Linked DNA regions of Homo sapiens: all the other regions are reported to be linked to region 1. The links are microRNA targets in miRTarBase. Many come from high-throughput screens and were not tested one by one. Region 1 holds a microRNA gene; each other region holds the end of a gene's coding sequence. Distances are from middle to middle.
What was found. Region 1 holds the annotated microRNA hsa-miR-4756-5p (CAGGGAGGCGCUCACUCUCUGCU, at 2,942-2,964, opposite strand). A microRNA usually pairs through its seed, bases 2 to 8, with sites in the 3' UTR of a target mRNA and lowers its output. Matches are read on the target gene's strand: a 7mer-m8 pairs with bases 2 to 8, a 7mer-A1 pairs with bases 2 to 7 and ends in A, and an 8mer does both.

Region 2: miRTarBase lists SPEF1 as a target of hsa-miR-4756-5p. Seed matches in the 3' UTR shown: 7mer-m8 at 5,036-5,042.
Region 3: the mRNA of ZNF496 is a reported target of hsa-miR-4756-5p. Seed matches in the 3' UTR shown: 7mer-m8 at 3,424-3,430, 7mer-m8 at 4,548-4,554 and 7mer-m8 at 4,904-4,910.
Region 4: miRTarBase lists SLC30A7 as a target of hsa-miR-4756-5p. The part of its 3' UTR that is shown has no 7-base or 8-base seed match.

Annotation. Positions count from the first base shown.
Region 1 is chr20:54,065,511-54,073,636 of GRCh38, forward strand. MIR4756 (microRNA 4756) reads right to left here and starts at 2,975; the gene lies at 2,898-2,975. BCAS1 (brain enriched myelin associated protein 1) reads right to left here and starts at 5,084. Exons shown (of 13, transcript NM_001366298.2): 1 at 4,923-5,084. RefSeq lists an enhancer at 3,803-4,677.
Region 2 is chr20:3,772,549-3,778,471 of GRCh38, forward strand. SPEF1 (sperm flagellar 1) reads right to left here. Exons shown (of 7, transcript NM_015417.5): 6 at 5,873-5,923; 7 at 4,956-5,771. The coding sequence ends at 5,664. Among named protein-coding and RNA genes, the nearest start is that of SPEF1, 5.9 kb to the right of the region's middle. RefSeq lists a silencer at 5,533-5,782 and an enhancer at 5,918-5,923.
Region 3 is chr1:247,295,711-247,303,836 of GRCh38, reverse strand. It overlaps ZNF496 (zinc finger protein 496), which reads left to right. Exons shown (of 10, transcript NM_032752.3): 10 at 2,561-6,422. The coding sequence ends at 3,318. Among named protein-coding and RNA genes, the nearest start is that of ZNF496, 32 kb to the left of the region's middle. RefSeq lists enhancers at 3,116-4,014, 4,015-4,914.
Region 4 is chr1:100,972,678-100,980,803 of GRCh38, forward strand. SLC30A7 (solute carrier family 30 member 7) reads left to right here. Exons shown (of 11, transcript NM_133496.5): 11 at 2,133-8,126. The coding sequence ends at 2,180. Among named protein-coding and RNA genes, the nearest start is that of DPH5, 49 kb to the right of the region's middle.

The DNA.
Region 1 (8,126 bases):
TGCTACATACCCTGCAATGCCAAGGACCGCCCCCTTCCCCCAGCGAAGAATTGTCTGCTTTGCTGAGGGTCGCTAGTGCTGATATTGAGGGGCCCTGCTCTAGTGCCTGGACTTGGGGATGTTCTCCTCGTGTTTGTAGCCAGGTGTCACCTAGGGATCTGCATTTCTGAAAAGCACGTGAGTAAATTCGTCTGTGGTGGTGAAATAGCGCAAGCCCTCTGCCTGGGCTCCCCTCTGGCTCACCCTGGCCATATGCATAAGCCCTGGCTCCGTGTCTGAGAAGTGAGGGGTGGAGGGAAGGACCATAATAGATTCCTTGCGTGGAGCTCCTGTGAAGATTAGAAGGGTGTGGCCCATGTGTTGTATAACTGGGTGGCTGGTGCACAGCAGCTGAGGAATAGAGATAAGCTGTTAGTATAAGCAGTAAATAAAATGGACCATACATTAGCAGTAGTAATACCTAATATTTTTGTAGCGCCTACCTTATGCCAGCCATTGCTCTGAATGCTTCTCTGTGTTAACTCACAGCTTCCTTATCAGAACCCGATGAGGCAGGTATTTTTTTTCTTTTTTTTTTTTTGAGGCGAAGTCTGGCTCTGTCGCCCAGGCTGGAGTGCAGTGGCGCCATTTCGGCTCACTGCAAGCTCCGTCTCCCGGGTTCACACCATTCTCCTGCCTCAGTCTCCCGAGTAGCTGGGACTACAGGCGCCTGCCACCACGCCCGGCTAATTTTTTGTATTTTTGGTAGAGACGGGGTTTCCCCGTGTTAGCCAGGATGGTCTCGATCTCCTGACCTCGTGATCCGCCCGCCTTGGCCTCCCAAAGTGCTGGGATTACAGGCGTGAGCCACCGGGCCCGGCCGAGGCAGGTATTTTTATTGTCCCCATTTTACAGATGCAGAACCTGAGCCCAGGGAACTTAAACTCCTCACTTAAGATCATGCTATGGATTGAAATGTGTCCTTCCAAAATTCGTGTTGGATTCGTGTTGAAGCCCTAACGTGCAATATGACTGCATTTGGAAATGTGGCCTCTAAGGAATCAAGGCTAAATGAAATCAGAAGGGTGGACCTTGATCTGATAGAATTAGTGTCATTATAAAAAGAGACACCAAAGAGCTCTCTCTGTCTCTCTCTCAACCGTGTGAGGACACAGCAAGAAGGCAGCTGTTGGCTAGCCAGAAAGAGTGGTCTCACCAGAAATGCATCGGCCAGAACCTTGATCTTGGACTTCCAGCCTCCAGAACTATGAGAAAACAAAAATGACTGTTGTTTAAGCCACCTAGTCTGTGGTGTTTTGGTTACCACAGCCCAAGCTGACTAATACAGATCATCTTCTAGTAAGTGGGAGAATGAGGACTTAACCCTCGCAAACTCAAGTCCAGAGTTTAGACTTTTAACTTTTCTATTTTCATACTTTCTACTGTCTCTTCTGCTGTATAAGTGATGTTATAGTTTTATGAAATATTTATATGTAATATAATAGAACATGGAATAGAAAATATTTCCTGCATATTCATTCTTGCAATGAGAAAATTATAACTAGGCAAGGAATATATATGGTACAATCTAAAGTGAGGATTAGGCCGGGCGCTGTGGCTCATGCCTGTAATCCCAGCAGTTTGGGAGGCTGAGGTGGGTGGATCACTTGAGGTCAGGTGTTTGAGACCATCCTGGCCAACATGGCGCAACCCTGTCTCTACTAAAAATACAAAAATTAGCCAGATGTGGAGGCACAATGCCTGTAATCCCAGCTACTTGGGAGGCTGAGGCAGGAGAATCGCTTGAACCCAGGAAGCGGAGGTTGCAGTGAGCCGAGATCACACCGCTGCACTCCAGCCTGAGCGACAGAATGAAACTCTCTCAATAAGTAAATAAATAAATCAAATAAAGTGAGGATTGAACAATTGAAGGGTCACTGATAATCACTGTAAGGATTTAGCGCCAGGGCTTGGCAGTACTCAGGTGAGTAAACGTTAGTTATTGCTAATATTATTCATTTATCTTATTATTGTTATAATTGAGTTAGTTCTGTGTTCTGATCCATGAGTGAATTGGCCTCCTGGAAGCTGCCCTCAAATCCCTCCTCTTTTACACAGTGATTGATGGTCCATGTCGCCTCCTTGTAGTTACAGATTAATAATAGGCCCTCCTCCTGGAAACAGGCCAAACGCCAAACCCCATGCAAGCTGGCCTGGAGAAAGCACTTCTGAAACTTCATCACCAGCAGGCAGCTAGACGACTGTTGAATGGGAGGGGGGGTGGTTTTGAAGGGTGGAATGGTGACAGAATTAGTCACCAAGTAAACAAGCAACACCTTCGATCAATGCAATGGAATGTAGGTAACCCAGGGGCCCTCCTCACTGCTCAGCTGAGGGTGACGCCAACATGGCCAGGCTGGCACACCCAGCAGAACCAGCCCTCTGCCCCCAACATCAGTAAAGACCTTGCAGGAGGAAAGAACAACCCCGCTTTGCCTGCCCCACAGTCCTGCAGCTCCATGTGTGTGCCCGCACAGTGCTAGGAACACGGCAGCTATTATCAGGAGTGCCAGGTACAGTGCTACAGGTTGCCTCCTGTACAAGGGGACACAGGGAACTGAAATCCAGTCCTCACTGAACTGCCCAAGCCCTGATTCCTGGTATGGGACTTTGTGGGTCCAGGGGCAGGGGTGCCTTGATCAAAATCACCTTGGATGTTTTAGGGCTGCTTGGTGATTGATGTTTTGCTTTCGGAGTACTTAATTATGTTTGCACAAACGGATGGTAATCCTAAAAATCTTAGAGCTCGCTCTCATAGTCTTATTATTGCACCAAACATTGTTAAGTGCATGATAATCGCAGGTAATTTTAATTGGAGGCTTACTATGTGCCAGGCAGCACCAGGGTGAGCATAGCAGGACACAAAATATAGGAAGGCAACCATCTCTGGTGCAGAATCGGCAGCAGAGAGTGAGCGCCTCCCTGCATTTTATCCCCCAGGTGCTCACTGGCTTCACCCTTGCCCTGACCCTGGTGCCAGGCACTTCACACACATTGTCTCCTTTTCCCTTGCAGAGTCCCATTATTCCCTGATTGCACAGATAAAGAAACCAAGGCTGAGCAATGCCATCCCCTCATCTCACGAACGTCACCTCCATGAGGGTAGGCACCTTACTAGTCCTACTTGCCCAAGAGTAGCAGTCAGAAAGCTACGGGGAGGCACACCTGGGGTTTGAACCTGGGTCCACGTGACTCAGGCACTCAAATCCTGAACTGCTTCAGGGCAGGGCACTTGGCTTGAAGAGAAGCTGCAGACACAGAGACAATCAAGTCACATCTAATACTCCAGCAGGACAGATGAGCCTGCAAGGTGCAAAGGTACCCCCGCCCCCAACCCAAAGCCTTTTTCAATTCCTCTCCCTCCACATCTCTTGTCATGGTAAAGCAGGCAGAATCCATGGGCTTTAACGGGCCCATTGCTTTTCCCAAAGCTCATGCCTTTTTCCTAAAAACAAAACCCTTCTGGGTTCCAGAACTCTTTGGAAAAAAAGAATCTTCTGTGATTTGGGACATTGGTTTGTTCCCCCACCCTCACTTAAATGAGAAACTACTTTAGCATGCCCCGCCCCGTCTGTTGTCTTTATTTAGGAGGAAGCACCCTCTACATACCCTGAGTATATACACCCAGGGCCTGAAGCTGCTGTGATCAGCTCAGGATCCCCAGGAGGCTGAGGCGGATCAGGCCCTGGACTCCGGGGGAACAATGTAAGGGACACCAAAAAGCTCAGCCATGGAGATGAATAGTATTTTAACATGAAATTTGTGAAAATCAAAATTACCGCTGTTCCTGATCTTATCTTTCTGTAACATGTTCATAGTTTGTTCATCACGGGTGTCTTGCCATTAATTCTGACTTTTAAAAATGTTGTGTTAACATACCGTTTATCTCCATGACTGAGTTTTTTGGCATCCCTTACATTTCGTGCCCAAGGTGAGAGTCTCACTGGCTGCACCCTCATCCCAGGCCCGACTGGACTCCAGTTCCACAGCATCCTTTCCATGAGACCTGGAACCAGATGCAGCTCCCTCTTCACCCAGCTTCATGTTCCTAGTTGTAAAATGGAGACGATGGTAACAGCGAAAACAAGAACCACAGCTAAGAGTTACTAAGTGCACAGGTATTTACGGGCAGTAGAGTCCTCTCAGCCCTTTGATCTCAGTACTGTTATTAGGTTCACTTTACAGATGAGGAAACTGAGGCCCAGAGGGCTGAGGGAACCTGCTCCAGGGCACCCAGCCAGCCCAGGGTGGAGCTGGGGCTGGCATCTGGCGGTGTGGCTGCAGCGCACCCGCATTCTAATCGCAATGACTCTTCCAGGCAGGAAACTGGTTCAGAGGGAGATGTAAACAGCAGGGGTCCTGAAGCCAGGATTTGAATCAGCAGCTGCCTCATAGGGTGGTCTTGAGCGTTAAATAAGATTCACAAAAGGCACTCCACAAGTCCTTTTTCTTGTCCTCCCACTTCTTTAGGCAATGCCTGAGGTGAAGGCTCAGATTCCACTCGGCTATGGGGCATTCTTGCCCTGACGGATCCCCAAATCACACAGCCTATCCCTCCATCCAGTGACTTCTCCCCATGTCCTGTGCTTGAAATGACCCTCAATAGTTCCACCAAATAGGAGTTATTTATGTGGCTATGCGCCTAACACTGACCACATTGTCATTTGCTCCTTGTAAAACTAAAAACTTTGAGATGAGTGCTATCTTTGGGTCCATTTCACAGATAGTGGAACTGAGGCTTACACATATCCAAGGCCACACAGTGAACAGAAGGCAGAGCTGGGATCAAACTTGACCCTGTCTGACCCCTGGCCTCTATATGACACCGTCTACCACAAACAGCAAACCCTCCAGCCATGCCTAAAGGATCTGAAAGCAGTTACCTGCTGAGCCCCTGTGGGAGTATCTTCAGTCCCCTCGTGTCACCCGGAGCTGCTCCTGCACAGGGTCCTGGGTCTCCAGTGCGTGCTGCCCAGTGCCTGGCTGTCGGTGGAGCCTGGCTCCCTGCACTTTGCTTCCTTGTGCAGAGCCTGCTGGCTGAATACACAGAGCAGGGCAAACACAAGCCTGGGTGGAGTCCTCCCTTCTCCCCGGACCATCCTGCAGAAACAGGTTCTCTTCCTGATGTGGGGCTGCCCTCCCAACTCCAATAAAAACTGAGCACCTGACTCCTCTCGCATTAATGCCTCCCTGGCACCCCAAGTATTCTACCCAGTGCCCCTCACCTACTGAGGCTGCCGGGTTGACCTGGGGAAGCAGTTTCCTTCCCCAGTAACCGTAGGTCATGGTCAGAGCAGGGAAAACACGTTCTGTGAGATTTTGTAGTTCTGTCTGCTGACTTCAGAACACCACCTCCACCACCACCTAACCACCTAATTGGAAGGAAATAGCTTCTCATCCACTCAACTACCCCTAGTCATGTAAACCTTATTCCCAAAGGGGTTTGGACACCAGAAATCAGGTAACCTGAGGGTGGTTTATTGCTCTGGAGACATACCATGATGTTGGAAAGGGCATTCTTTTTCTTTGCAGGCCAGAAATTCGACAGGCTATGCAATTTATTTAATTCAAGCAAGGATGTTGTTTAAAGTGTCTTACAAGGACATATACAATAGATTATGAGAGCATGAAATAACATGTAACAAAAGAAGATTGAAGAACAAAATTTGGAACATCAAATGAGAACAGGATCAAAAATAAATGCTCTTGTTGATTTACAGACTTGCTATGAAGGGTTTGCAGATATGGCTTTGAGCTTCCTAACAGCCAATGCAAGAAAGGAAACTTGATAAGTTACACTACTTAGTGCTCTGGAGAAGACATTCAAGAGAATTGCGACCAATAATTATTGTGGTTTTATTCAACAGTATACTCAGCTTAACCCCTATCATGAATACTTGTCAAGCACCAGGCTATATATATAAGCCAGAGTTTAAAGAGGTGAGTAAAAGATGCTGGGTCTCTACCCTTCTTGCACTCAGTGTCATTGGACATAGAATCCTGTAAATATAAACATAGAATTACAGGGTGTGATTCTCATTATAAAAGAAAAGCCAAGGCAGCTAAGGGAGAGAAATAGAGAGAGCTGGGGAAGGCCTCTTTCAGAAATCAACATTTAAGAAAAAAAATACTATTTAAATAAATGCTGAATACACAACCAGGCACACCGTAATTAGGGTTGTAAAGTCGATTCCAGCTCAGCACTGTACATGTCAATCTGGAATGTAGTAAACCCAATTATTAAGCAGCTGCCATGCACACGCTCTGTGCTGACCCAAGCCTGGAGGCTCAGGAGCTTGAGCTCTGGCCCTGGGTTGAGACAGACAAGGGCTCGGATCTTGATTCTTACTGATCGGCTGTGGAATTATGAGCAAGCTACTGTACTTCCCTAAGTCTCTGTCAGCCCCCTCAGCTGTGTGCTCCTTTGTGTTTATTTTGCATCTATTCTTGTATCCCCAACTCCTGGCACCCTGCAAAACGAGGATGGGGATCCCTCTATGATAGAGTAGGTACTCTGCAACTCCTGGCTGATTGGACTTGTTCATTCTTTTTTTTTTTTTTTTTAAGACGGAGTCTTGCTTTGTCATCCAGACTGGAGTGCAGTGGTGTTATCTCGGCTCACTGCAACCTCTGCCTCCCAGGTTCAAGCAATTCTGTTGCCTCAGCCTCCTAAGTAGCTGGGACTACAGGTGTGCACCACCATGCCTGGCTAATTTTTGTATTTTTAGTAGAGGTGGGGTTTCTCCATGTTGGCCAGGCTGGTCTGGAACTCCTGACCTCAAGTGATCCACCCGCCTCAGTCTCCCAAAGTGCTGGGATTATAGGCGTGAGCTAACACTCCCCATTGTCTTGCTCTCTTTTAAATTATACATGGCAGTAACTGCCATTTGGATGGCATTAGTCTTTGCAAAGCCTTTTGTGTTTATCCGTCCATTTCATTTATGTCCACAGTGAAATTAAGATCTTTTGCTCCCATTTTACAGAAGAAAAACATAAGGTTTAGGGATATGAGTGATTTAGGAGATTAAGAAAAATCATTCAGGTGGGGGCACTCAGCAGTGTGTCTGGCAAAACGTAGACCATCACCAAGCATCAGCTGGTGTAGTCAAGGGTGTTGATGAAGGATCTGGCAAACTGTAGACCATCACCAAGGATCAGCTGGTGTAGTCAGGAGTGGTGATGAAGGGTCTGGCAAACTGTAGACCATCACCAAAGATCAGCTGGTGTAGTCAGGAGTGGTGATGAAGGATCTGGCAAACTGTAGATCATCACCAAGGATCAGCTGGTGTAGTCAGGAGTGGTGATGAAGGGTCTGGCAAACTGTAGACCATCATCAAGCATCAGCTGGTGTAGTCAGGAGTGGTGATGAAGGATCTGGCAAACTGTAGATCATCACCAAGGATCAGCTGGTGTAGTCAGGAGTGGTGATGAAGGGTCTGGCAAACTGTAGACCATCACCAAGCATCAGCTGGTGTAGTCAGGAGTGGTGATGAAGGATCTGGCAAACTGTAGATCATTACCAAGGATCAGCTGGTGTAGTCAGGAGTGGTGATGAAGGGTCTGGCAAACTGTAGACCATCACCAAGCATCAGCTGGTGTAGTCAGGAGTGGTGATGAAGGGTCTGGCAAACTGTAGACCATCACCAAGCATCAGCTGGTGTAGTCAGGAGTGGTGATGAAGGGTCTGGCAAACTGTAGACCATCACCAAGCATCAGCTGGTGTAGTCAGGAGTGGTGATGAGGCAGGACCGGCTACATAATCTGCTGAACCCAGTGCAAAACAAAAACGATGAGCCCTTTGTTCTAAAAGCAGGGAAAAGTACCGTTAAAGGTATGAAACATAAAGCTGTTTTCTCTCCTTCCTGGTCTCTTTCTCTACCTGTCATGTATTTTACTTATTATTTGAAGTCATTCTAAGGGAAGAAAAAATAAAAATGTAAGTGATCAGCGTGAGTTTTGCCATCCGTCTTTAGATCAAGCCATGCTGGTTTGAAATGCAATGAACTCGAGGGCAGAATCACCAAAATCATACGACTTGTATTTTGTAGTTAGTTACGGGGCCCCCGTAGTCTGTTCTCACTAAAACA
Region 2 (5,923 bases), 50 Mb from region 1:
AACTAGGAAAGAGGGCAGATAGGAAAGACTGACATATTATAAGGAATTGACTCACACAATTATGGAGTCTGACCAGTCCCAAGAGCTGCAGGTTGGGTTGGCAAGTTGGAGACCCAGGAGAGCCAATGGTTTAGTTCCAGTCTGAGTCCCAATGCCTGAGAGCCAGGAAAGTCAATGATGTATCTCCAGTCCAAAGGGCAGCAGGTTTGAGACCAAGGAAGAATCAATGTTTCAGTTTGATCCCAAAGGCGAGAAAAAAGCTGATGTTCCAGTTCAAAGACCACCAGGCAATAAAAATTCTCTCTTATTTGGGGAGGGCCAGCCTTTTTCTTCTATTTAGGTCTCAACTGACTGGATGTGGCCCACTCACATTAGAGAGGGAAATCTGTTTCACTCATCTGCTGATTTCTTTCTTTTTTCCTTTTGTTTTTGAAATGGATTCTCACTCTGTTGCCCAGGCTGGAGTGCCGTGGCATGATCTTGGTTCCCTGCAACCTCCACCTCCCGGGTTCAAGCGATTCTCCTGCCTCAGCTTCCTGAGTAGCTGGGGTTACAGGCAATCACCACCACGCCCGGCTAATTTTTGTATTTTTAGTAGAGACGGGGTTTCGCCATGTTGACCAGGCTGGTCTTGAATGCCTGACCTCAGGTGATTAGCCCGCCTCGGCCTCCCAAAGTGCTGGGATTACAGGCGTGAGCCACCGTGCCCGGCCTCATCTGCTGATTTAAATGTTAACCTTAGCCGGGTGCGGTGGTTTACCCCTGTTTTCCCAGCACTTTGGGAGGCCGAGGCGGGCGGCTCACTCGAGCTCAGGTGTTCGGGTCAACATGGTGAAACCTGCCTCTACTAAATACATAAAAATTAGCTGGGCATGGTGGCATGAGCCTGTAGTCCCAGCTACTCAGGAGGCCGAGGCACGAGAATCACTTGAACCCAGGAGGTGGAGGGTGCAGTTAACTGAAATTGTGCCACTACACTCCAGCCAGGGTGACAAAACAAGACTCTTCTCTCAAAAATAAGAGTAAGACAAATGTGCATGTTTGTTTATAGTCACATAAAGTCATTCCGGAAGGATACATAAAAACTAAAGATAGAGGTTCCCTATTAGAGATGTGCTGGGAATAAGAAGACTTTTCACTTTTTATGTGTTTTTTTTAAATCATATATATGTTTTATCTATTCAAAACATTAAGTAACAAAGTTTAAATACCCTTGCATGCCTTCCTCTCCTGTAGGGTTGTGAACACTGGAGGGAACAAATCATGTTTTATACTCACTTTTGTATTCCTGGTATTTAGTACATAGTAGGTACTCAATAAATAGAGGAAAGAACGAATGAATGAACCAGAAGATAGCAGATTTAGTGTCGGTTAGAGAGAGGAGAGGGGCCAGGCACAGTGGCTCACACATGTAATCCCAGCATTTTGGGAGGCTGAGGCAAGAGGCTCACTTGAACCTAGGAGTTGGAGACCAGCCTGGGTAACAAAGCGAAATCCTGTCTCTACAAAAAAAAAAAAAAAAAAAAAAAAAAAAAAAGCCCAGGAGCAGTGGCTCACACCTGTAATCCCAGCACTTTGGGAGGCCGAGGTGGGTGGATCACCTGAGGTTAGCAGTTCGAGACCAACTAGGCCAACATGGTGAAACACCATCTCTACTGAAGATACAAAAATTAGTTGGGCGTAGTGGCAGGTGCCTGTAATTCCAGCAACTCAGGAGGCTGAGGCAGGAGAATAGCTTGAACCTGGGAGGCAGAGGTTGCAGTGAGCCGAGATCATGCCGCTGCACTCCAGCCTGGATGACAGAGTGAGACATCTCATAAAAAAAAAAAATTAGCTGGATATGGTGGTATGCACCTGTCCTCCCACCTATTCTAGAGGCTGAGGTGTAAAGATTGCTTGAACTTGGGAGGCTGGGGTTGCAGTGAGCCAAGATTGTGCCACTGCACTCCAGCCTGGGCGACAGAGTAAAACCCTGTCTCTAAAAAAGAAGGGAGTTAGGGCTGGGTGCGGTGGCTCACGGCTGTAATCCCAGCACTTTAGGAGGCCGAGGCTGGTGGATCACCTGAGGTCAGGAGTTTGAGACCAGCCTGACCAATATGGTGGAACCCCGTCTCTACTAAAAATACAAAAAGTAGCCGGGTGTGGTGGCGTGTGCCTGTAATCCCAGCTACTTGGGAGGCTGAGACAGAGGAATCACTTGAACCAGGGAAGTGGAGAGTGCAGTGAGCCGAGATCATACCACTGCACTCCAGCCTGGGTGACAGAGCAATACTCTGTCTCAAAACAAAAAAAAAGAAAGAAAGAAAAATTTTTTAAAAATTAAATTAAAAATAAGGGAGTTATAATCTTATCTAATGTAATCACAAAAGTTGACATCCTATCACATTTGCTGTATTCTACTTATCAGAAGCAAGTCACTAAGTCCAGCCTACATTCAAGGAAAGGGTACACATGGGGGTGACGTCCAGGAGGCAGGGATTACTGGGAGCCACGTTAGGAGCTGTCTACTACAAGGAGGAAAAAGCAATGAAAGGATGAAATCTAGGATGGTGGTTATCTCTGAGTGGAAGCAAGGGGGAGAGATGCAAGAAGCACATGGCCGGTGAAAGTTATTTGTAATAATTCCATTCTTGGGGCAGGTGGTGGATTTATAGGTGTTCATAAGTGAGTTGATTATGGACAAATGGGGAGAGAGTGTCATGAACCAAGGATTATATTTAGTCCAATTCAGTAATATTTAAAATATTCAATAATAAATGAAATAAAAATTGCCAACTACTCCTGACCTTGTTCTGAGCCCCATCCATGCACTCCACCTGGTCTTAGTTTAACACTGGCTCCACCTGACCCTCCACTTGCCCCAAACTAACCGTTAGCCCTTCACACACACTGACCCTTGCTATAGCACCACGATCTCTCCATAGTCTGCAATAGGCCCCCGGAGTTCTATTCCCTGAAACTTTTATCCATGTAACCTCACCTGTAGGCTGCTATATGTAAAGATAGTAGGAATGGCTGATGGAGTGGCCCGAGGACCAGGAGACAGGGCAGGCTAACAGTTCTGCCTTAGCAGTAGCACTGTGGGCCCAGAAGACAGGTTTGATGGCTGGTATCACGACCTCACCTATTGGCCTCCTACATGGCAAAGGCTGGGCCAGGTCCTGATGGTTCTTCCTCTTTGAGGCTTCTGCTCCTGGTATCCAGATATAGCTAAGTCTGTCTCTGAGAAGTGCACCTCTGCCACAGCACCAGGCCTGTAACTCCCTTGTTGGTAATAGACTCTATCAACTCTCTCCTTTCCTGTCTTTGATGAAGTAAGCTACCATACTGGAGATGGCTATGTGTCAAGGAAATGAGAGTGGCTATTGGCCAACAATGAGTAAAACACTGAAGCTTTCAGTTTGACAGCCCACTAGGAAGTAAATTCAGTCAGCAACCAAGTAAGCCTGGAAGCCTGGATCCTTCCTCAGTTGTGCCTTCAGATGAGACTGCAGTTCTATTGGCCCTTTGCTTGCAGCCTTGTAGGAAACATTGAAGTGGAGGACCCAGCCAAGCCTGGCCTGGACTCTTGACCCACAGAAAATGTGAGATATAATAATAAGTATTTGTTGTTCTAAGCTGCTACATTGGTGATAATTTGCTACACAGTAAGAGATAATGTATACAGGTTCTTTTCATTTCTTTTGCTATTACAAAGAGTGTTTCTGTGGGCCAGGCATGGTGGCTCACGCCTGTAATCCCAGCACTTTTGGAGGCCAAGGCAGGTGGATCACTTGAGGTCAGGAGTTCGAGGCCAGCCTAGCCAACATGGTGAAACCTGTCTCTACCAAAAATATAAAAAATTAGCCAGATGTGGTGGCATGCACCTGTAATCTCACATACTTGAGAGGCTCAGGCAGGAGAATCGCTTGAACTCAGGAGGTGGAGGTTGCAGTGAGCCGAGATCGTGCAATTGCACTCCAGCCTGGACGACAGAGCAAGACTCCATTTTAAAAAAAACAAAACCAAACAAAAAGAGTGTTGCTATGAACGTTGTTGTAACATGTCTCCCAGAACACAGAACACAAGAGCCTAGGTTTCCCTTGGGTATGTGCTGGGTATATGCCTAGGAATGGAATTGTTAGATCTCAGGATGTTTGTTTTGTTTTGAGACAGAGTGTCCTTCTGTTGCCTAGGCTGGAGTGCAGTGGTGCGATCTTGGCTCACTGCAACCTCTGCCCCCCAGCTTCAAGCAATTCTCCTGCCTCAGCTTCCCAAGTAGCTGGGACTACAGGTGCCCGCCACCACGCCTGGCTAATTGTTCGTATTTTTAATAGAGATGGGTTTTCACCATTGGCCAGGCTGGTCTTGAACTCCTGGCCTCAAGTGACCCACCTGCCTTGGCCTCCCAAAGTGGTGGGATTACAGGCCTGAGCCACCATGCCCAGCTGGATCTCAGGATTTACAAATGTTCCACATTACTGGTAGTCAGAAAACCATTAAAGTTAGGGTCATGCCATGGCTGTAGTGTGTTGGCCAGGGTTGGGAGTAAAGCCTGGCCTCAATCCATGGAAGTTGGGATTGTCTGTGGGCAGGGTTGGAGTCGTACAGAGGGCCGAGTTAGGGGTCAGTCCTTACGTAGGGTTGAGGGTGAGTGTGTGGCCACATTTGGGAACAATTTGAAGTCTGGTTTGGGGTTGGGTTTGGACAAGGTTGGAGAACACTGTGAGGGTGGGTTTGGGGGTCAATCTAAGGCCAGGGTTAGAAGTTAGGCTGTCATCCTGTGCAAAACCTGACCCCTGGTGATATCATCAACCTACCAAGCTGTGGCCGCACAGGACCCAGCCACCCACAAGATGAGATCCACTCTGGGTCCAGAAAGCTCTTTCACTCAAGGCGGGGGTGGGGAGATGGAGGACAAGTGAAGAAGAAACTGGCTCCCCTCAGATGCAAAAAGAGAAGGCAGGCACAGGAAATAGAACACAACACTGACTTTAATGGGGCAGCCCTGAGCCGTAACCTTCAAACCTTCCGCCTCAGTACCCCGTGCGCGAGGAGGGAGGGGCGACTGCTACGGGCACATCGTCGATGTCCTCCCTACTCCTGGCGATCCCACGCCTCACCCCTTCCTCTCCAGCTGCTGCGGTCTCCGTCGCCGAGGTGGGTCCCAGGTAAGCTCCCAGGAGGGGCAGGGGAGCCCCTCAGCGGCCCGGGACAGATTCCCCCATGGCTGAGGGCATGGGGAACTAGCCTGGATGGAGACGCCGCCGTCCTCGGAGCTGGGCGGGGACCTGATTCTGGGGGTGTGGACAGAGCCAAGGGACCGCCCCCCAAGGCCCAGCGCCGGGAGATGCAAGGCCGGGCCCAAGGTGTTGGACACTGCTTTGGGGGACAGGCTAGGTCTCTGCACGTGGCTTCTGGGCTCTGGAAAGCGGTCCATTCTCCTGACCCGGATCTCCGGAGTGGTAGGAGGCGGCTCAGTCCCGGGCCTGCGCTCCTAGAGTTCCTGTCCCATCTCCTCCCACGCTCACCCATCCCAAGGAAGGAGGGCACTCGGGCCCCAGCAGGCTCGTGAGAGCAGCGGGCTCCGCCCTCCCAATGGTCTATCCATCGGTGGGTGGGTCCGGCGCGGCGTCGGGGCTCTGGCGGGTACCCGGGCGTCCCCGCGCGGCCCGGGCCGCCGCTCACCGCTGCTTACGCTCCGCCTGCTGGAGCCGCCGGGAGAGGTCTTCGATCCGCACATTCTTGAGCTGGAGCAGGTGCTCCAGGCGCCTTACCTTCATCTGCAGGACCTAAGCCGCACCGCGCAGGCGTCAAGCCTGGCGGTCTGCTCCCTCCTGCCCGGCCTCTGCTGGCCGCGAGCCCCCACCCGCAGCCTTCCTAGACCCCTCACCTGCACGGTCTCTTGAGAGGCCAACAGCTCCTGCTCCTTTTCAGCGATCTG
Region 3 (8,126 bases), not on the chromosome of region 1:
CAGTGCACGCTTTCTTATTTTTTGCCGTATGGATAGACAGAATTTTCCAAATCTTGAAGTCATGGTTCCTTTTTGCTACAACAATTCCTTCTTCAGTTTATCTCTCTCATCTCACGTTTCACTATAAGCGGCAAAAAACTAGTCTTTGCCTTTGACACTTTGCTTCGATACCTCCTCAGCTCAGTATCCGAGTTCCTTACTTACAATTTCTGTTTCCACAGAACAGTTGAATATGGTTTGGCCAAATTCTTTGCCACTTTATAATTGGAGGATCTCCTTTTCTCCAATTTCCTATAACGTCCGTATTTCTACCAGCCACTTCCTCAAGGCTTTTTAAACATGCACTTCAGAACTCTCCTGGCCTCTCCCCATGACCTAGTTCTAAAATCACTTCGACAGTTTTTGGTCTTTGTTTTAGCTGCACCCTACTTCCTGGTGCCAAAGTCTATGTTAGTCTACTGTGGCTACCATAACAAGGTACCACAGGCTGGGTGACTTAAACAACAGAAACTTACTTTCTTACAATTCCAGAAGCAACAAGTCCAGAATCAAGGCTTCAGCAGAGCTGGTGTCTTCCAAGGCCTTTCTCGTCTTGGAGACGGCTCCCATCTTGCTGTGTCCTCACAGGGTCCTTCCCTCTGTTGAAGTCTGCCTCCAGTCTCCTCCTCTTAGAAGACCAGTGATTTTGGATTGGCCCCACCATCTGACTTCATTTTGACTTAATTACTTCTTGAAAGACCCTATCTCCAAGTAATCACATTCTGAGGCTCTATGGGTTAGGGCTTCATCATGTAAATTTTCAGGGGGACACAATTTCGCCCATAACATGCACTGTCTGCTCTCATAATTCCATCTCCTCGCCCAGTTAACAAGTAAGAGATCTTAGCGGTCCACCTTGTCACTTTGTTTTCTTCTTCCACCCAAGTCCATTAACAGAAGTCAACTGCTGATCAAGTACCTTGTCATCGGCAGCCTGGTAAAAGTTACACCTTGCTCTTGTCTCCACCCCATGAGGTCCACAAAGTACATCATACACATGACCTCACCTGCCCCACCAGCAGCTTAGAGCAACGGGCTGCCACTGTCATTCTCACCTTGTAGACGAGATGACCCAAGCTCAGAGAAGCTGTCTGGCTGGAACGAGGTTCCTGCAGCTCGAAAACCAAGAGTCGAGATAAGCGTCAAACATAGCCTCTCGGCGGGCGCAGTGGCTCACACCTGTAATCCCAGCACTTTGGGAGGCTGAGGCAGGTGGATCACCTGAGATGGGTGGCTCGCTTGAGCCCAGGAGTTTGAGACCAGCCTGGGCAACATAATGTGACCCCATCTGTACAAAAAATTAAAAACACATGCACACACACAAACACAATCTCTGTCTTCATCTGATGATTTCCCTCCTATACTACGTGGGTTCTTGGCAGACTCAGTACCCACTCCCAGACTCATGTTCCCCCGACCCCCTTGTGACTGAGGGACAAATGCCCCCTCCGCTTCCACCATTGCCCTTTATCTCTCTGCTCTCCATAGCCTCTGTGTCTTCCTGCCCTGCTTCTGTTTGTCCAACTTCTCCTGTCCTGAGCTGCTCTGACTAGCCAGGGCTCTCCTCCCCACAGTCATGAAGCCCAGACTAACCATGTTCCTACTCTTATCTGGGAGGGCCTGGTTCACTCCCCCCAAGTTCTAGATTTGAGTTCTACATTTCACAGCAGTGAGGAAACAGGCCACCTGTATGGTGGGCTCTGCTCCATAAGCCGGGACCTCAGGCCGGGCTCTGCACTGTCCACCCAGCCCCGCCCCGTGGTTCCACCTTCCCAACATCACAGACTCAGGATGCAGGAAGTCCAGAGCAGCTTTATCCATCACCACCTGTGGCCTCAGAAATGCGGTGCTACTGGGAGCCGGGGAGCTGTGGGGGACCCAGGACTCTGGGCAGTCTGGGACTGTTGAGCAGCCTAGCAAGGCTGAGTAGCATTTCAGCCCTCCTTCCTGGCACAGATCACCTTAGTTTATGTGTAAACATGGCAACCAATAGGTCATCGGGTTGCGTCCAGGAGCAAATAGGAATGTGCATGTCAAGTCTAGCACAGTCCCTGGAGCATGCAAGTGCCCAGCACATGATATGTGTAGGTTGTAGAGTCTTCCTCTCTCAAGTCCTTTCACTATCCTGATAGAGCTTTCCCCCATGCCTTGTTAAGTGCATGATCTGTAAATGGTCAAGGCTTTACCCAGATAAATACAGACTCCTAGAGCTTGGGGGGATGGGGTGGTCTCCGTGGGTAGAGAACAAAAGGGTTGGGGGTGGAGATAAGGGAAAATGGCTGGGAAGAGGGAGAGCAAGGTGCCCAGCATGCTCTGGACACAGCGGGGCCCATGCTGAAGATTTCTTCCTCACAGGCTACACCAGTGGCCCCTGCAGGGCTGGCCAGGCCGCCCCGGTCACCGAGGACCATTGTAAAAACACGGGTTTGTAAACTCCAAGCTGAGTGTTCCTCCGCCGCGGTCATAGGGGCTGGGATGTGGCCTGTGCAGCGTCGCTGACCTGCATGTTGCCTTCCTGTAGCTGGCGGCAACCCGCGATCTCTAGAGAACAGCCTGGATGAAGAAGTGACCATCGAGATCGTTCTCTCCAGCTCTGGGGACGAGGACTCCCAGCATGGCCCGTACTGCACAGAAGAGCTGGGGAGCCCCACAGAGAAGCAGCGCAGCCTCCCCGCCTCCCACCGGAGCAGCACCGAGGCCGGAGGCGAGGTGCAGACCTCCAAGAAGTCCTACGTGTGTCCGAACTGTGGGAAAATCTTCCGCTGGAGGGTCAACTTCATCCGGCATCTGCGGAGCCGCAGGGAGCAGGAGAAGCCGCACGAGTGCTCGGTGTGCGGGGAGCTGTTCAGCGACAGCGAGGACCTGGATGGGCACCTAGAGAGCCACGAGGCCCAGAAGCCTTACCGGTGTGGTGCCTGCGGGAAGAGCTTCCGCCTGAACTCCCACCTGCTCTCCCACCGGCGGATACACCTGCAGCCGGACAGACTCCAGCCGGTGGAGAAGAGAGAGCAGGCGGCATCCGAGGACGCGGACAAGGGTCCCAAAGAGCCGCTGGAAAACGGCAAGGCCAAACTGAGCTTCCAGTGCTGTGAGTGTGGGAAGGCCTTCCAGCGGCACGACCACCTGGCTCGGCACCGCAGCCACTTTCACCTGAAGGACAAAGCCCGGCCCTTCCAGTGCCGGTACTGCGTCAAGAGCTTCACGCAGAACTATGACCTCCTCCGCCACGAGCGCCTGCACATGAAGCGCCGTTCCAAGCAGGCTCTGAACTCCTACTGAGCCTCTCCGCCTGGGGCGGCCTCACCCTGGCTGGTGCTGCCCCCTCACCTTGGTACTGATCAGCGCCCCCACCCAGGACATACCTTCCCCAGGATAGAGAGCACACCTCCCTCCTGTCCTTGCTCTCAGGTAGTGAGCGTTCGGGTGGTGCCATGGGAGCACTCTCCCTCCCCCAGGTAATGAAAGAGTGGCCAAGTGAGTGTTCTGTTTCTGCTGTGCCAAAAAACGGGGGGGATGTGCCATCACCAGGTTGGACATGCCAGGTGTTCTGCGTCTTAGAGACCCTTGGCCCATGCTCCCCAAGCTCGGGGAGTAAAACTGGGCTATCCCCCGTCAGGGCGGCACCCTGGTCACCAGCCAAACCTCAGTATACTCCCTCCCCTCCTTCCCTGTCTGAACGCTAGGATCTGCTCCTGAAGCTCCAGGATGCCTGCACTTCCACTGAGAAGCTGCTGGCGGATGTTGGACTAGAGGAAAGAAGAAGGCAGGGTGGGACTGATGGGCTCAGTGGGGAGCAGGGCCAGGCACACTGAGCCAGACATGTCATGTCTGAGCCCCAGATTCGTGGCCATCAGGTAGGCAGGAGCACCCCGCAGATCCAAGATGATCAGGCAGCCCTTTTGGGCTGGCCTCTGTGGCAGGGGTCTGCAGAGCTCCTTCTTGAGGTTTGGAAACAGTCGTCATACCTGTTGATTTTCCTGGGGGCCAATCACTAGGGATCTGGAGCTCACCAAAAACAAAGCTTACATTTTAATTTGTGTTGCACACCTACCCCATAATGTCTTTATACCCCAAAGATCCTTGGTAAATGCTTGTGGGTTGGAAGCGGAGTTGTCATCGTTTAAAAGGCACTTAAGTCCCTTCTTCCAATCTGTCCTGTCTAGGAATGTGGAGCTCTGCCCCCAGTGAGGGGTTCTCCTGTCTGGGTGAGCCAAGCTCCAGAACAGAACCTTGCCTGACAACACACTTGATAGATACATTAGCTTGGAGTGCTGGTGTGTCCAAACACTGGCTGGCTTAGAACAACAGGAGTGTATTCCCTGACAGTTCTGGGAGGTGCACGTCCAAGATCAGGGTGTCCTCAGAGTTGGTGCCTTCCGAGAGCTGTGAGGGAGAAGCGGCTTCATGCCTTTGCTGGCAGTTGCCATTCCTTGGTGTGTGGAAGCGTCACCCAGTCTCTGCCTTCATCTCCACATGGCACTCTTGCTGTGTGCGTGTCTGTCTCCAAACCTCCCTTTGTTTAAGGACACCAGTCATATCGGATTAGAGCCCATCCCACCGACTCCAGTATAACCTCATCTGTATCCGCAGCAACCGTTTACCAATAAGGTCACATTCTGAGGTACTAGAGGTTGGGACTTCAACATCGGAATTTGAAAGGGACAGCATTCAGCCCATGACTCCAGATAAACGTGAGGTATGCTATATCATTCCTAATTTACAGATGAGTCAATACAAACTTGAGTGAGCTTGCTCACAATTCCATCAAAGGCAGGGTTCAGACCCAAGTTTCAGCATTTAGGGCAGGTGTCCTCTGCATGGAAGAATCATACTCAATAGCCGTAAACGCTGACAAATTCCCCTTCCTCCCTGCCTTCTGATGGGGGCTGGGCAGGCCAGCTGGAGCTGTGTCTCCTGCTGGGATTCCGGACTGAGAGTGACAGCAGGTAGTGAAACCTCAAGCAATTTAAAACATGGTATTGTTCCTGGAAGACTGGTTATGTTGGCTAGGGTCAGCAAGAGAGGGCATCAAGGCTGTAGTCTAGCAGTGATTTAATCTGCAAGTCAAACCAGACGGGTATTTTGTATTATTCATATGTCACATCCTACCAACAGACAGTAAGTCAGGCAAGGCTCCTGGTGCTCCTTGTCACTCACGTAATTTTCACATCAGGAAAACTCTGGGCTGGGTGCAGTGGCTCACACCTGTAATCCTAGCACTTTGGGAAACCAAGGTGGGTGGATTGCCTAGCTCAGTGACACCAGCCTGGGCCACATGGCAAAACCCCGTCTGTACCAAAAATGCAAAAAATTAGCTGGGTGTGGTGTTGACGTTTGCGGTCCCAGCTACTCTGGAGGCTGAGGTGGGAGGATTGCTTGAGTCTGGGAGGCAGAAGTTGCAGTAAGCCGAGATCATGCCACTGCACAAGCTAGGTGACAGAATGAGACTCTGTCTCAAAAATAATTAAAAAGCCTCTGCCCCAAACTCGTTAAAAGATTTTATAACCACAACTGCTGTTTCTGTGTAGATGCATCTGCATGCCCAGGAGCAGTAAATGCAATAAAATCATTTGGTTATACTTTGAACACAAAATAAACGGTTGAGGCTTTTACTTTCTAAATAGTTTGTCTCTTGTATCAACATAGCTGGAAAAGGGAGAAATCCGATTTTTAAGGCCAAGGGAGGGGAAAATTCCAAGTAGAAGCCAGGCTCTCTGTACACGTTTACCCCACCTACCTGTGTGCTCCTACCTGTGCTGAGGATTCTCTCTGTAGCTCTAAGGTCTTGGGAAGGTTATTCACCTTCCTGCTTCAGACGTCTGACTCAAGAGAAGAACACTGTTCTACTTACCAGAGTGTTTTTCTGTGTAAAACCACATCATGAAGGAGAAAGCGACAAAGGGAATGTGAGGGGCTGGAAGCCACAGGGAGGCTGTCTCTTGAGTCCCCACCACTGATCCAGAGCCAACCAAGGCACCTCAGGAAATGGAAGGCCACATTGCCTCTGGATTTGGAAATCCTCCTGGGTAATGTAACTGAAACCCAGGTTGATGCCATGCAGCAGGAGCAGCAGGGGGAACGTGCTCTCAGGAGAGGTCGGCCAACCCTCCAGCCCAACACCCTTCACCACAGTGGTGGAGGAGGCTGCACCCAGGAGATCTTTGTCTCCCTTTTGGCCACTGATACCTTTGGCCTTATCTGACAACAGCTACCCCTCGATCCTTCCCTCCCACCCCAGGGGCTGGGCAGCTGGCTGGAGCTTTGTGTCCACCTTGCTCTGGAGGTTGAGACCCCCATCTGAGCAACATCCTCTCTCTTTGTTCCTCTGATCCCTTGGCATCGTCACAAACCCACAGGTGCATAATAAAAACTTGCTGAGTCAATATTCCTGTTAGGCTTTTCATTTTCATTTAAAAAGTAAAATGTGGCTGGGCGTGGCAGCTCATTCCTGTAATCCCAGCACTTTGGGAGGCCGAGGCAGAAGGATTGCTTGAGGTCAGGAGTTTGAGACCAGCCTGAGCAATATAGTGAGACCCCATCTCTAAGAAAAAAATAGAACAATTAGCCTGCCATGGTGGCACATGCCTGTAGCTATTTTGGGGGCTGAGGTGGGGGAAGATCCCTTGAACCCAGGAGACAGAGGTTGCTGTGAACGGTGGAGGTTGCTATGAACGGTGGAGCGCCACTGCACTCCAGCCTGGGTGACAGAGCAAGACTTCATCTCAAAAAACAAAAAGTAAAATGTGAAGCACAGCCAAAACATGTTTTCTAAGACCTGCAGGCTTTAGATAGTTCTGGTCACCTGATCTGGCCCCTCCCCAAAAGAAAGAAGAAGAAATAACTGTTTCATACGCTGGGAGTAGATTGTACTCCTGGTCACACCACAGCTTTAAGCCAACCTTAGTCGTTTTTCTCTTTTCTCTATCTCCCCAACTCTTGCCTCAGCTAGAAGAAGAAACAAATAAAAAAAGATGAGGCCATTGGTGGGAGGGTCCCTATCAGTCCTAAATCATACTGTGGCACAAAGGAAAGAGAAGGCCAGCTTTGAAGCCTGTGGAGATCTTGTCCAAGTCACTCTTCTCCTGTGAGATGGTTTCCCTTCCTCTGCCAAAAGCAGAGTTTGGATCAGATAGAAGTAATTCTGCTTGCAGAGTTACGTAGACGATTCAGCGATGATTATAGCACTTCAGCAATTCCATCAAATAAGCCCACTTTTTTTTCACCCCCCTAAAGACGGGCTCTCACTATTTTGCCCATGCTGGTCTCAGACTCCTGAGCTTCTCCCACCATGGCCTCCCAAAGTGCTGGGATTATAAGTCTGAGCCACCACACCCAGCCTCCAGACACACTTAGTATTAGCAACAAACACTGATACTGTTTGGTCTTGAAAGTGACGGTCAGTGCCCACTACTAGTCCATGCAACAAGGCTAGAGGTTAGAAAACTTGCTTAGGGCAGACTGGCCACAGGAAAGGGACTGTTGAAGGGACCACTGGAAGACCAGGTACCTCTAGCAGCCCAGACCCATGTATAGGGCAGCTGATAGAGTGCCAGTGGCCCAGCATCTGGGGGGTGGTTAGTAGTGATCATGAGCTCAACAGGGGCAAAGCCCAGGGGGTCCATCTGTACCTGTTTTGCCCATCAGATACCAATTGGGAACTTTATCTTCTCTTGAAACCATAGCCTGTAACCAGGTCACCATGATTAATGTGCATATAATTAGCAAAGTACAGAGAAGCCATAGAAATTCCCTGTGAGAAGATGCAAAACTCAGTGTGGGAAAGCAGAGTCCTCAGGAATACACGGAAGTGGGAGGAACCCGGGGCTTACCTCACACATCTTGGCCATAGCCGGGAATATCACAGGCAGGCCGACAACTGTGTGACAAAGGGCTGTCTTCTAATCACACAACCAAATGGCAGGAGAACCACCCTTTCTCCATCACCTGCTTTAAAAAAAAAAATACTATGGTTGTGTCTGTCCTGCCCCATTATATTAGTCTTGCTACACCTTGTCAAAATACGAAGAGGTTGGATACTTGCTATTTTCTACCTTTTTACGTGATGATCAGTCAGGCATAGCCACAAG
Region 4 (8,126 bases), not on the chromosome of region 1:
TGATATATAAGAATTTTTAAAGAGTTCCTAAGTACAGTCATTTCAGGTGTCATCTGGATAATGTCAGATCATATAATTGTAATCAATCTTAATAATTTGTTTGTAATAGCCTTTTATAAGTACCTGGTATATAGCAAGGATTTATTGAATATCTGTCAAATATTGGATGAATATGTAACAATTGTGTGAGATTAGTAGGGCTGGTGTTTATCAATGCTTTTAAAATGAGAAAAAATTAAGTTTGATTTTAATTTGTAACTCAAGAACATACAGATACTGAATTCTGTCTTTTTTTCTGCCACATCATCTTAACTGAGGAGAGGATGCTATTAAATATATTTTTCTTAAATTTGAATAACAGAGGCTTTAACTTTCCACAGGAAAAAAAAAAAGAAAAAAAAGGAGAAGCACCAGCAAAATTAAAATATATTTCTTTTGCTGACAAGCTTCTAGAGCCTGCAAGCCTTTTATCCATTCGAGTAGTTCCTGAATCCTTTCAAGCACTCAGTATTGTACAGAGCCCTCCTACCTGAATTCTAGAAAAAAAGCCAAGCTAGGAAACAGTGCTTTGAGGAGTCCAGAAATTACTGTAAGAAGGTAGTGCTAATAGATTTTTTCCTCACTCTGATTTTTTTCCTATTAAATATTCCAATTTACCTTTTATTCTGTGGTACTGAGAAGAAAGGGCTTATTGTGACTAATGGGTTCCTTTAATTAAAAATAGATCATTTTGGGTTGAAAGAAGGAAATTAGTAGAATTTTAGTTAATTCAACAAATACTTATTGATCACTTACTGTGTGCTGGCTCTCACTTGAGGTTCTAGGAGTCAGCAATGTAAAGAAGAAGACCAAATCCTTTATCTCGGAGACATTATATTATAGTGAGAGGTCAATAATAAACAATAAACACCGTGAATAAGTTGTATAATACATCGCAAGGTGATAAGTTTACTGGGAGTGCTGAGGTATTTACCAGCTCTTGTACCAAGCTTTATTTTTTTCTTTAGCCTTTGGCGATTTCAGTTTTCAGAGAGGAGGAAGAACTAGCAGAGAAGACTGAGAAAGACTGATAAGTGAGGTAAAAGGGCAGCCAGTGAATATTCTCTGGAAGCCAAAAGGGAAAATATATATATCTATAGGCAGGAGTGACCATCTGTATTATTGCTGATAGGTGAAGTAGGAAGAAGAGGCCTGAGAATTGGATATTAATGTAAGCAATGTGGAAGTGACCTGGACACAGTTTGGGGGAAGTGTTGGGAAGCAAAAGATTGGTTGAAATGAGTTCAAGAGAGAAGTGAGAAAAAGGATTTTAGACAGCAAATATGGATAACTCTTTTGAGGCTTTTTGCTGTAAAGAAGAGCGGAGATGGGGAGCCCAGAAGGGGATGTAGGGTTAAGTAAAGATTTTTGTTGCTTTTTGTTGTTGTTTTAAATAGCTTTAGGGGGTACAAGTGCAGTTTTGTTACTAGGATATATTGCGTAGTAGTGAAGTTTGGGCTTTTAGTGCAACTATCACCTGAATAGTGTACATTGTACCCAAAAGATAATTTCTCATGAGGTTTTTTCAAAGATAGAAACAGCTACAGTGTGTTTGTATGCTAATAGAAGTGATCTAGTTGAGAGGAAGTAAATTGATAATACAGAAGATATTGGGGAGAATTTAGAGAGCAGTATCCTTGAGTAGCAAGTTCATATCCAAAACAGAAGAGAGAACTTGGAGTGCAAAATAATTCCAATAGATGGTTATACTTGCTAAATTGTTTACTAATCATTTATCACAGGAGGATTTAGACAGGGTTGATGTATCAATTTCAACTAGGAGCCAACCAGTCAAGCATCATGGTGTCCTCTAACAGAGTAACTGTAGAAGGTGAACTGCATTTTTCTAAGTATCACCTGGATATCTGGATAGGGTGTGTGACTGTTAACATGGCTCTTTTTTTTTTGTTTGTTTTTTTGTAGTGGTAAATGGAGATTATTTTTTGTAGCTTATGAATATATTTGTTTCTGAAATGATTCTTTTCTTTTTTTAAAAAAGTGAGATTTGTAAAAGAAAAAAAATACTTTCCTGAAATGTGTAGGGTGTTATTAGCTTGTTAGATTTTCTAACTTTTTTTTTTCTTACTTTTCAGGCTGGAGTGAGACAGCTCTACGTACAGATTGACTTTGCAGCCATGTAGTGAATGGAAAGAAATTATGCACCTTTTATGGACCAAATTTTTCTGGTACTGTACGATCCAAAACATTGTACCCAGCTTTTTAAAAGAGAGAAATTATCACTACAACTCCCGAGCACTAAGTAGACGGGGTAGAGTCAGCCGTTCATGCTTTGTGGGGAGTTCACAGCTAAGGGATCAGATTTAAGAGGATATCTCCTGGACTTTTGGTCTTTTCTTTTGTGCTCTTTCCTCCAAATCTTTTTGACTTCTGAGGTTTTTAGCTTAGGATGTTAATTTGTCCTTTTGTCTTTCTTTTTTTGTTTTTGTTTTCTGTTTGTTTGTTTTCATGTTGAATGCCCACACCACCATCCTCTCATCCCAGCCAGTAAGAATTTCAGTTGTGGGCCTCCAGTCTTCTGGAATGTCTTCACTGCAGCTGCTGGAAATCACTGCTTTCATTCCCACAAAACCAGTATTACTTTTTTTTAAAAAAAGAAAGAAATTGGAAATCTGTGCTATACGTAATGTCATAATTGTTGACGTTCTTCAGTATAATCATGTTTGTTAAATTGTTTGTACCTTGCAAACTTATGAACCAAACCATATTGGGTTTTCAAAGTGCCTTTGTATCCAAAAATGTATTTGCCAGCATAGAAATGTACCATCAAGAGTCATGTATGTTTTATTTTTGTTTTTATTTTTTATTTTTTGAGATGGAGTCTCGCTCTGTAGCCAGGCTGGAGTGCAGTGGCATAATCTCAGCTCACTGCAACCTCTGCTTCCCGGGTTCAAGCTATTCTCCTGCCTCAGCCTTCTGAGTAGCTGCGACTATGGGCGTGTGCCACCATGCCCAGCTAATTTTTGCATTTTTAGTAGAGATGGGGTTTCACCATGTTGGCCAGGATGGTCTTGATCTCTTGACCTCGTGATCCGTCCACCTCAGCCTCCCAAAGTGCTGGGATTACAGGTGTGAGCCACCACGCCCGGCTATGTTTTTTTTTTTTTTTTTTTTTTTTTTTAACAATGGATATTCTGTAAAATATCCTGTACAAAACAAGACTATTGCCAGTAATGTATACAAATTGTCTTTTTGTGTACTTCCAGCATAGGTTTGGATATATGAACATTTTTCTTTTATTGTTTTATCTTCACAGAAAATAAAAGGTGTTAATTTGCTTTTTAAAACAAATTTAATTATCACATTTTAAATTACTTTGTGGACTGTGTTTTCAAAACTTTGCAAATTCATCTGTTACACAGAAAATTTTGACTTAAAACATCTGCTGAATTCCAAATTTCTGTAATAGCTACTGTATCTGTGATAAACTTTCCTATATCTTTCCTTGCCATTTCTATGGATTTTATAATGAAAGAAAAAGGCATTGGAGACTGAAGGCAGAAATGGTTGTGACAGTGCTGTTTGGCTTTTTCATTCTTCAAATGCCAAGTCATCCACTTTGTTTTCCTGTTTAGGCTTTGCACAAATACAATTGCTTTCAGGAATCCTAAAGCAGCATTTTATTGAGTTTGAATTATTAAAGGTACAGAGGAAATGTGGTGATGTAGAACTTTTCCTAACACAGGTATCTAGGAAGTAAGTGCTGAGTTGATTTTCTAGGTTCTTACGTATTTGAAAAATAAAATTGCAATTCGAGATAAGTGCTTGAGCACTCTACTTAAGTATTCTCTGTGTTTTATGAAGAGAAAATGATCTGATTTTCCCTTATACTTCATTTTACAATACATATTCCCTTTTAACTTAAAAAAATTGTAAATGTGGGAGAAAAAACCCTGCAGGATGGAAACAATTATTAAGAATGTAGATCAATAAGTACTTTTTAGTGATGTGGCAGAAATCCCTGTTGATTCTAAGTTTTAGAGTGTCTTTTCCCCTATTTCTGACCTACAACTATAAACTACTCTCTATTAGGAGAACTAGACCACTTTCTTCATTCTTTTCTAAACTGCTGCAGATTGCCGTGAACTCTATCAATAGTCTCTTTTCCGCAGGCAAAGTGGCATTTTCTAAACATGTTTGCTTACTGCCAGGTGGTTTGAAATCTATGATTTACTGCAGTAGTATGTGCTTAAAACAACTGTTGAGGTCTTTTAAGCAGGAAAGTTCAAAAGGAAGTGTCCTGATAATGGTACTGGTTTTTCTACAAATATAAGTAGTCATTAGAAGTTTGCAACCACCACCAAGTCTGAGAGAACTCTGGGATATTCTGTGGGTTTTGGCATATTAGATAGAGAAAATGACAGATCTAGATGAAGGGAGCTTTTGGATGTGTGCCTTTAAAAACTGATTATGTATAAATACTGATATTTCACATACGGAGATATTTGAAGACCCAAGTCTGCCTTTCACAGAGCCCTCCATTCCAAGTTTAGTTTTTGTCAAAATATGAATCATTTTATTTGACTGTACTATCAGTACACAAATGCATGAGTATGTTTATACAGTGTTAGACTGATGTGAATTTGCATTTGTTACATTACATTGCCAGCGCATATCATTTAGCAAGTTGGCATTAACATTTATGCTTTAATTAAATGCCAGTATACCTATGTGTGCAGCAGTAAAAAATTAGTGAGAAAAAGCAACTTTTTGTCACTCTTAGGAAATATTTTGTCTTATTAGTGTTCTTGGCACATGTATATTACTAAAGTAGATAATTCCAATGAGAAATACTACCAGATTATTGTTATAAAATTAATTTACAATGTCCCTGATATTGAGCTAACTCTTAAAAAAACCAAACAAAACTCGTATCTGAGTGTAACTTTGCCAATATTTTAAAAGCCAAAATATTCTCTGGACAACAAATTTGTATTGCTCAGGGACAGTTTACCTTGCCTGGTAAACCTTCCCAAACAGAAATATAGCTATACTATCTTTGGTTTTGTTTTTTTGTTTTTTTTGTTTGTTTGTATTAGATGGAATTTCACTCTTGTCGCCCAGGCTGGAGTGTAGTGGCGCAGTCTCAGCTCACTGCAACCTCCACCTCCCGGGTTCAAGTGATTCTCCTGTCTCAGCTCCCTGAGTAACTGGAATTACAGGTGCACGCCACCACGCCCGGCTAATTTTTGTGTTTTTAGCAGAGACAGGGTTTCACCACGTTGGCCAGGGTGGTCTTGGACTCCTGACCTCAGGTCATCCTCCTGCCTCGGCCTCCCAAAGTGCTGAGACTACAGGTGTGAGCCACCGTGCTCAGCCACTAGCTTTGGTTTTTTAAACATAGATTATATTCCTCAAGATGAAGGGCTTAACATATCCACAGCTTCCTCAGTTTGCTAACTCCCCATGCATCTTTGTGAAGGACAGTATCTAGTTTATCTGTAGGTCAGTGTTCCTTGTGCTGTCATTTCCCTTATATCTGGAATTTGTCAGCATTCCTGAAAACCTACACGTGTATATCAGTAACCAAAATGCTATGCCTTTTTTGCACCTTTGTACAGCAGCCAAATCATGAACTCAAAATGTATTTGATCACAGTTCTATAATGTTTTTACCTACCTATTATGGAATAATCAGTTTTTACAGAGATTATTAATATGGTAGAACCCTGTTATGTAATTCCAAAACTTAAGAACCATATTTACATTGCTTAACACAGAATTTTACATCTAAGCAAGGACTGGCTTTAGAAGCAGTGTAGTTCTACCTCTCATTTTACAGATGAGAAAACCGAAGCCCAGAAAAACTCTCATTTGCTCAAAGTCACAGAGAAAATTAGTGGCAAAGCCAAAAAGATTCAGATCTTCTGACTCGAAGTTGAGAGTTCTTTATACTCTATTATGCTGCCTCTCCAGTGTAATATTTGCCTTTCTGTAAATGGGATTAAATATGATTTGTAAATAAAGGACATCTGACCTCCTTTTTTGGTACATTAAGGCACTTTATAAATGGACTTTTATTGTCTCATTTTTCGTATATAATTATTTCCATCATATTCTTTATGGAAGATGCAATTAATTTTAACTTTTTTACTCTTATAAAACCAGTTCCTGACATTTTAAAAAACAATATCTGTAAAATGGATCCTTTTATGAGTGAATTTTTCTGCTAATTGCCCAAGGCTAAATCCAATTTAAGGATTGCTTAGTTTCTTTATTTTGTTTATGGTCTCTGAACTGGTATTTTTTTATAAACCAGGCTAATTCACAGGTCATACCATTTCATTCTTGTCGTGTTGGCTTCCAGTCACTGGAAAAGCTTTTGCATTTTAAAGATTTTTAGAGCCATGCAAAACTGGGCATTAAATGTTGCATAAAGCAAATCTTTTAAGTAAGGTAAAATGTTGAAGTCTTAACCAGAATTCCTACAACTAATTACTAAAACTGCTATTTCTAACTCTTCATGAAAGCATTACCTTTGGAAAGTTAAACTTTTTTTTTCCTTTCATCACCGTCTTTGAAACAAATTATTTTCCAATTCATAAGAACTTTGGTAAAAAAAAAAATAAAAGGAAATTATATGTTTTTCTTTGGACATTCATTGGAAGGCTTGTTGAAGACATGATCCCCCAGAAGCCTTAGTGACCCAGATCTCAACCAGAGACTCAAGATAGCCTCAAATACAGTGAAAGATTATGTATCCAAAAAAAAAAAAAAAAAAAAAAGAAAAGGAGCAGGGAAGGACAGTTCTAGTTAAAGCCAAATGGATGTGAGTCTGACAAGGGTGTCTTTGATTTATATTTCCTAACTGCAAATTACACAGAAAGTGAGAATGGGGAATAACTTTTATTAAGTATTTATGTGCCAGGCGGTTAGTGTGGCCTTCATGTTATTACATTTAATCCTCAAATTTCTACAAAGGAATAATTTTGCATGATTTTATGATTGACGGAGCATTTTCAAATCTCCTCTAATTCTCATAACATCTCTGTGAGGAAGGAATTTTTATCCTTATTTTACAGATGAGGAAGCTGTTTGGAGATAATTTAAGTGACTTGCCTGGGGAATCTAGCCAGTAGTAGAGTACTGATTAATCAGGTGCTGACATCTGCTCTGCTTTGTGTATGTAATTCAGCAGTGCTTCAAAGATCCAAGAAGCTGTAGCAGATCTCAATACACTCTCCTATAAAATTAGTGAATAATCACCATGACAAAATTGGTATGGCGGAACAGTCATTATACATTATTTAGACTCATTCCTTCTTCCAGTGCCCTTATGATTATTTCCTACCTTTACCATTGATCTTAAACTGTGCAGGCTAAAAAGAGGAACCAGAACTCCCTTAAGCACTTTTAAGACTATTTAAAAAATAAAGTTTTGTTGGCATTGAAGAGTAAGCTGCTTAAGGGACTGAATGAAAAGATAGTACCCTTTGTGGCTGTATGAAGAGAGAAACTGAATTTCTATCCAAGAGACCTTAATTTAGTTTATTAGGGAATTATCTTCCCCAAAAGTACAAGTAATTTTGCACTGCAGGAGAAGGATAAGTAGATTTGATTTACATCACATTTTATACACACCTTTCAAAAGGAAGAAATCTGTTTCATAAATAGTAGTAATCTATGCTTAAACTTAACATTTAATGTTGACTTCTTACAACAGCCTTGAAAATTATTTGTAATTTTGATCATGATGTTGGAAAGCTTGTAATAAAGAATATCTTTCTCTTCTGCATCCTTTTATCCTCAAACTTAGCATGGATTCACATGCTGAGTAAATGTTTGGTTAACTAGTGAACATTTTAGATAGTTGTGTCAAAAATAAGGGTTAGGGATAGGTAAAACCAGTAATTTACTGTTTTTTACAGAAGACATCTCAGCATTTCTTTGGCATTTTTGCACAAATAAATGACTATATATTCACCTTGGCCATTTTTTTTTTTAAGTAGCCCTATGAGCTGCTCATTCTTTTTCATATACAGTGGAAGTATACAGATGTTATCCATTTTACAAATTGTTGGATCGGAATTTGACAGAATTGGGACTGTGGAACCTGGGTCACTTGAATTT